Linked DNA regions of Homo sapiens. The protein of the gene in region 2 interacts with the protein of the main gene of each other region in a pairwise test. Each region holds a gene or a part of one and is shown on either strand. Other genes may lie near its edges.

Region 1 (3,726 bases), on a different chromosome or scaffold from region 2:
TAACAACAGGTTGTAATTATGACAACCTAATACTTAGTAGGTGCTCAGTAAATGTTTGTTGAATGAAGCTGAATGAATAATATGTAAATAAAATGTAAAGGTAAATGAAATCTCAGCTAATATGAATGGCAATCCTGCTGGCCACAGAGCAGTTAACCTTCTTATCTATGTGGAATATTTTCCATTTGTCTCAGGCTCACTTGTTTATTCTGCAACATTTCTGGAATACTAACTTTGTATGGGCTCCTGCCCTCAGGCATCTTATAGGCTGTTGGAAGGAAAAGGACCAAAATAAGGAACAATAGTAAAAAATAGTCATGAAGCCTGTCATACCTGTTCCCTTTCTTGTTCCTCATAGCCTCATGGGTAGGCCTGCAGGGGTTGTTTTTGGCCATGGTGAGGACATTTGAGAGGACAGTCCTTGTCTTGCAGGCTGGCTGTGATGATTCCAGGAAATGGTACACAGAGGACACTGCTGGCCAAATGTTCCATAGGAACACATGTGCATGCACACCGCAGTCTTCTTTCTAGTTTACCGAGCTGCTCCCAGCAGTTGTCATTATATATGCAGTTCTACATGTCAGTACATTTATCTAAAATCCATTCACAGTCCACACATAAGATTTTAAGTACTTGTGATAAATGTTGTCTTTGTTCCACTCCCGGTCCCTCCCCTTTTCTCCTCCCCTCCTTTGGCCCAGAGGGCTGCACAGTGCCTCTCTCGGAAAAAGTACTTCATAGGTTTGCCATGAGGACTGCTGGGACCAAGGCCACTTGCTCGCCAGGGTGTTTCATATTCCAGTCAGATGATCTGGGTGATACGGGTTTGGTTTGGAGCCCACCTTCCAAGAATGAAAGAGGCCACTTACCACTTTGTCTGACACTTTGCAGTCCGCCTTCACTGGCTGAAAGACTGACTCTTAGGACTTCTACCCCAAACCATAGCACCTAGGGTCCATGTGTTCTGTTTGAGCCTCAGAGTTTGAGATGAGTGGGTGGTTGAGGGAGTAGGCATTCATTAGAGAGATGGGTGTGGGAACTATCTATTATGTGCTCCAGGATTCTCGATGTCACTTTGTGCTGCCAACTCTTGACGTAGCCATCAGTGCTAGATTAGGAGGGGTGCTTGCTTGCTTACTACCCATTGAGCACCTGCTGGGCACTTTATATGCATTGTCTCATTTGATCTTTATGACCCTCTTTTGGGTGGTGGGCTGGTGGATCAGACCCTGCAGCTGACATACCAACTCTACCATCTTGATTCTTACAGATTACACAGACAGAGGTCCAGCAAGGACAGCAGCAGTTCAGCCAGTTCACAGATGGACAGGTAGGGTACCCAACCTGGGCTGGGCAGAGGGTGAGGATTTGCGGGGCAGGGTAGCAGGTAGTATCTGGGTTTGGATGGTTAGGGCAACTGTCCTGTCCTCTACTAACAGTGAGTGGACAGAAATTGTTAAAACAAGTACGGTATTTAAATCAGGGCACCTATCCTTTAGTTTTATAGACTTAGTGGGAACTAAAATAATCTTAGACATGTAGCCCAAATTGCCATTTTACAGATGAGTAAACTGAACCCTGGAGATGGGAAGTGCCTTGTCCATGCTCCCCTAGATGTTCATTGCAGAGCCAGGACTAGAGAGCAGGTTTCCTGTTTCCCTCTCTAGAACTGTATTTTTTTCCCCTCTAAGCCATGATGCTGTTTTAATAGCATGGACTGTTGAGACGCAGAGAACACGTGACCTCTTGAGCTCTCTGGGTGCCTGAAATTCAGTCATTTTCAGTCCATGCGAGGAGAGAATCTTCCCTTTTCCCTCTGCTTTCCCCTCACAGTACAGTCCCAGAGACCACTGAGGACATGATAGGATGACATGCCCAAACTTGTGCCCTCTGCTGCTCAAAAGGGAGAAGAGCTGGCATCAGGACCCACCTCTGGCTTCTGCCAGCACCACATGCTAGGCTTACATGCCAGGGCTCCCATGAGGGCTTGGCTTTTGGCTTCTTTGGGGAGCGCCTGGGAAACCAAGTAGTCAATTAGCCCTGACCTTCCTAAGTGGCTGTGTGAGTATCTTCTCCACCCCTGGAGCGTCTTGGCTATAGTTAAGTGTTTAATACCAGGCCACCTCCTTAGCAGGGTCCATGGAGAAAATTCAAATTCAGTTTAGTTTCAACCTGAGCCAGATATTCTGAGAAAAGAAGGAGAGGAGGGGGTAATCCTACTGCCCCTGCCAGTGTAGATTACCAAGAGTTGGGGAAATGCTGACTTCCAAGCTGCTGGTACAGTGGTTCGAATTGCTTGTGTTTGCCACAGAGGAACAGCGTGCAGCAAGCTCGAGTCTCTGAGCTAACGGGAGAGGCAGAGCCCAGAGAAGTGAAAGCCACAGGAAATTCAACTCCCTGCACCTCTTCCCTGCCCACCACACACCCCCCCTCACACCGGGCTGGTGCCTCCTGTGTCTGCTGCTCCCAACCCCAGCAGAGCTCCACTTCCCCTCCTCCTTCTGACGCCTTGCAGTGGGTGGTGGTTGAGGTATCTGGGACCCCCAACCAGCTCGAGACCCATAGGGAGCTGCATGCCCCTCTCCCAGGGATGACCTCACTCTCTCCTCTCCACCCCTCGCAGCAGCTCTACCAGATCCAGCAAGTCACCATGCCTGCGGGCCAGGACCTCGCCCAGCCCATGTTCATCCAGTCAGCCAACCAGCCCTCCGACGGGCAGGCCCCCCAGGTGACCGGCGACTGAGGGCCTGAGCTGGCAAGGCCAAGGACACCCAACACAATTTTTGCCATACAGCCCCAGGCAATGGGCACAGCCTTCCTCCCCAGAGGACCCGGCCGACCTCAGCGCCTCCTGCAGGCTAGGACACTGGTGCACTACACCCCATGCCTGGGGGCCGAGATTCTCCAGCAGAAAGATGCAATATTTTTTGTTTCCTTTTTTTCCATTTTTTTCTCTAAGGAATCAATATTTCAATATGTTGAGTGTGTGTCCAATGCTATGAAATTAAAATATTAAATAACATATTTATGGCATTTTCTTGAAGAGTGTGGTTGAAGAAATATTTCTCCTTTTGTTTTTCTTTTTTTTTTGTTTGTTACTGCCACTTCTTTTTAGGAGCAAATCTCCCCAGGGGTGTACGGTATTTCTTGACTCTGGGAACAGCTGCTACCCCCAAGACTTGCCACGTTGTTCTGCCCTCAGATGGAATTAGGTGAATGTGTGTAGCTGCTTTTTCACTCGTGGTCCTCTCCCCATCCCTTGCTCTGACCCCAGAGCTCTGTGTATTTGCATCCAGAGGCCATGGAAACATTCTTTGCATTTAAGAGACAGATTTATTCCCTGTGGAGAGTGGGTGGATTCATTGCCACACTCTTTTCTCCCAGGGACCCAGGAAACTAGGACTTTGTGTGTTTGCTGCCCACCTCCCTTTTATTTTTTAAATGCATTAAAAACTGTGCTAGTCTCCTTTGCATGGACTTCAAGCTGCATGAAATGCAATAAATCTCATTTTAGATAATTTAGAGTCTGGGTTTCTGTGTCTGGGGGCATTCATGGGGCCACTTTGCTTGGAAAGGTTCATTTGCCCTCAGTTTGTGTGTCTGGGAGAGAGGGCCACCCTTGTGAGAAGGAGATGTTCAAAGCTAAGGGAACTTAATGCTGTGTACCTAATTCAAACTGAGGTCCTTAGCCGATCTTTTTTTTTCTGGCTCTGTTGCCCAGGCTGG
Region 2 (3,600 bases):
AAATATCCAAATGAACCAACCACTCTACTTGCTGAAATGCCATAAAGCTTCTTTACCCCAGACATTTGCCCAAATCTTATAATTTCTTTTCTCCTCTCTGACAGGCCTCTCCAGAGGCCCAAACTTTAATAGAATCTGAGAGAAAAAAGTGGCCAGTCTATCTGCTGTCCAGAGTGATGCCAAACTCTTTCTCCCGGAGCCAGTTCTCCCCGTTGGGCAGTCAGGTGAGGATCCGATTATTAACAAACTCTACTTGGGTCTCCTTGGCAAAGAGTTTCTGGCTTCAGCAGCCTAGCTCAGGGGGGTTCATAATTATGTCAGACTCGCTTTTTTTCTTGTAGTTGCTTTTAACCAAAGAGGTTAAGCCTCTGTACAACCAAGAGGAAGAACTAGAATTAGAAAACTTACCAATCGTCCCAGCCAATGATAATCCATTTCCAACAGGTATTAACGCCTGTTAGAAGCCACTGGAACACTGACATCATCAGCCCAATTGATAGGTTGTCTGATAGATTCGCCCCCTTCATCGCACACAAGAATTTAAAACAAAACAAGACACTGCAGTTATATTCATTATTGCAGACAATGGGTTTCTTTGTGTTAGTAATTGAAATTACTGCTGTGGTCTGGACTCCACCATTATTTCCTTTGCAGCCTGTGAGCCAGCCAACACTCTAAACTTTCTAGCCCTAAAAATTGTATCATCCAGAATACCAACTCAATACAGCCCTCCACTGTGAAACTGAATGCCTTCTGGGGTACAGCATGAAACCGTTTTAGACAGTGCATGCCAGTGCACCTTGAAACAGTGTCCATCTGTAATGAAATCTGTAAACGGGAAACTTGGGCCAATTCATTGTTTAAAGCAGATCTACTGGCTCATACCTTTCTCTAGGAAACAATAAGTGAACAAGAAGTAACCTCAGAAGAAGAAAGAACTTTGGGAGAATGCACTGAGAAAGGCCAGACTGAGTCCCCTTGGATGAAGTTAATTAAGAAACAAACATGACAGGATATTGCAATCAAAACCAAGGAATGCAGTGAGGACAGGTTTCTCAGTTGCCCAGAGGAGAAAACATAGTTCCTTCTGAACTAAAATTAGAAAGCCGCTGGCAAGGAAACATAAGAAGCATGGATAAGAGGCTGAAAACCGTAAGTCAGCAATGGGGATGGAGGTGGGTACAGGAAGAGAGCGAGTATCTATTTTGTTTTATTTCTTCTGTAATTCCTTAAGATTGTTTGCGCCTGAGCTTTGGGACTGCAGTAGTCTCCCCTACGGGGCGTCAAGTAACAGGCTGGGAGCTCTGGCAAGAAGTTCTCAAACTTCTCACAATTCTGCTAAGAGCTTGCAGATATCTAGCTGGAAGATCAAGGATCCAAGTAAAAACATTAAAGGAAGGTTTTTGCCCACTCCCCGGTGAGAGGTCATCTGCCCAGGGAGTGCTCTCGTGTCCTGACACCATCGCCCGACTGGGGATATATCAGTAACCGGGCTGTCGTCGATGCCGAGCAGTGCCCATCTGGTTGGCAGCGTCCGGGTCTCAAGCGTTCCCTCGCCCCTCTCTGTTCTCCGGGGAGCCCTGAATCGCTGGTGGGCATCTACAGTTAAGAGTGCAGGAAGGCCTCTCAGACACGGGGCGAACACAAGGGCTGTTGGCTGCCTCCTCAGAGCCGACCCAGGCATAGTTCGCCCAGGCGGGAGAGCGGCGTTGAAGTGGGTCGGCACCCGTCCGAGGGGTGCCAGGCCACCCCGGTGCCCGCTCCTCTCGCCGGCCCCCGGAAGCGCCGCCCTCCCGCCCGGCGGGCTCCGAGGGGGCGGGGAGTCGAACGCCCCCTTCCGGGTGCCTCCGCCCGGCTGGCCAGCCCCGCTCCTCCTCCGGGCGGGAATCCTCCCTCCCCCGCCCCTCCTGAAGCCGGGCCCCGACGCCAGACCCAGCCCCAGGGGGGAACCCCCGGCCTCGGCTCCCTCTCCCCGCGGCCTCTGCCCGTCTTCCTGACCCTTGGGGGCCGGGAAGACCCCGCCGGCAGCGGCCGGGACCCACCGCTCATTACGACATCTTCCTCCCTGGCCTCCGCCGCCTCCGCCGCCACCGAGAGCCTGACACCGCCCGCCAAGCAACCGCCAATCCCGGAGCCCGCCACCGCCCGAGCGACGGCAGCCTTCACCAATAAGCGCTTGGAACATTGGGGACCGACAGCACTATTAACCAATCAACCAGAGGCGTCTAGAGCGACGTTGATTTGACCAATAGGTCTGTGCAATGTCACTGATGGACGGTAGAGCGCACCAACCGAAAGCCAATTGAATAATGAGTGACATGTGCATCAGCCAATTGGAGGGAGGCAAAGTCCCGCCCGCTGGGTGGTTGATGTACAGCAACAGGAAGCTGGAAGGGGAGGGGCTTAGCCGAAGAGTGCTTTTGTATTGGTCGAGGTTGACCTTCCACCCACCTCTAACCCAGAGGATGAATGATAGATCTGCCCTGAAGCCAATCAGAAGTCCTTAGGGTGAGGCCCACAAATGCCCCAGAAATAGCATATACATTGCGCCCTAAGTCCAGTCTCGCCCAGGTGTGGCAGGAGCTTTTACCTGCTCTTCGGCAGTAGCCGGCTGCCACTCAACCCCATGCCTGGTGAGTGGAAAGCCATCAACCTTTTATTTAGTCCCTCTCTCGTTGTCGCCTGGGGAGGGGCGACTTTGTACAGTGAGGCACTGGGGTCCGGCACCATAGTGGGAGTTGGGGTTGTTTACGCGACACTTCTAAGGGGATTTTCACAATCGGTTAAGCCCCCGTTAATCCTCACATGGTTATTGCGGCGACCCCCATAGCCCACGGTCCCAAACGTGTGCATCTGAATCATCCGAAGCTCTTTCTAAAGGCAGGCTCCCCTGGCCGCCTCTCCTAATCCGACTCGGTACTTCACGGGGCGTGCCTAGAATCTGCATTTTAGCAAGGGCCTCGCGTGGACAGAATTGCACGCTTGAGTTTGAGAAGTACTGCTTGGCCTCTGCCCCACTTACCCTTACCTTCTTGAGATGAGGTAAAGCACTTGGTAGGCACTAGGCGGGTAGGTTTATCTTTGCTCCCAAGTCTCTTCCGAGAACTTGGGAAGGCTGCCTAGCTTAGTGAGGGAATCCATTCTGGCTTCAGACCAGTCTGGGTTTGAAACCTACACATCCCACTAACTTAGGCAGGGTACCGAAACTCCCTGAGCTTCATGTCCTCATCAGTAAAACGAGGTTAATCACACCTACACCTTAGCGCGATGGCTTAAAAAAAAAAAAAAAAAAAACAAACAAAAAAAAACATAGTCCATCAAGAGAAATACATTTTGCATACAGACCAGTACACTGCTATTTGTATGAGAGTGTCATAAAGTTTCCGAAAACAATGCTTACTACTTGTGACGCACTGATAGTTTCTATGCTTATCCTATCCTATCTTATTCTCCTTCTTGTTGATCATGACTGGCAGTTTGAAAAACACTGCTAGAAAAGGTTGGTGTGATAATACAAAATGCAGAGCAGAATACCGGGTACACAGTAATTGCTGAATAAATGTTAATAGCCTCTTCCAGTCTTCTCCTCTCAGTGTTAGC

Evidence for each region. The genes of interacting proteins can lie anywhere in the genome.
Region 1: the proteins of SP2 (region 2) and NFYC interact in binary tests that used the Homo sapiens proteins (3 or more experiments, as listed by UniProt).

Annotation. Positions count from the first base shown.
Region 1 is NC_000001.11:40,768,086-40,771,811, forward strand, and holds the end of NFYC (nuclear transcription factor Y subunit gamma), read left to right. Parts: intron 1-1,270; coding exon 1,271-1,330; intron 1,331-2,311; coding exon of another isoform or gene 2,312-2,623; coding exon 2,624-2,743; 3' UTR 2,744-3,518; downstream 3,519-3,726. UniProt on the Homo sapiens protein: Component of the sequence-specific heterotrimeric transcription factor (NF-Y) which specifically recognizes a 5'-CCAAT-3' box motif found in the promoters of its target genes.
Region 2 is NC_000017.11:47,894,736-47,898,335, reverse strand, and holds the start of SP2 (transcription factor Sp2), read right to left. Parts: upstream 2,101-3,600; 5' UTR 2,050-2,100; coding exon 2,043-2,049; exon of another isoform or gene 1,999-2,042; intron 1,600-1,998; exon of another isoform or gene 1,490-1,599; intron 522-1,489; exon of another isoform or gene 409-521; intron 1-408. UniProt on the Homo sapiens protein: Binds to GC box promoters elements and selectively activates mRNA synthesis from genes that contain functional recognition sites.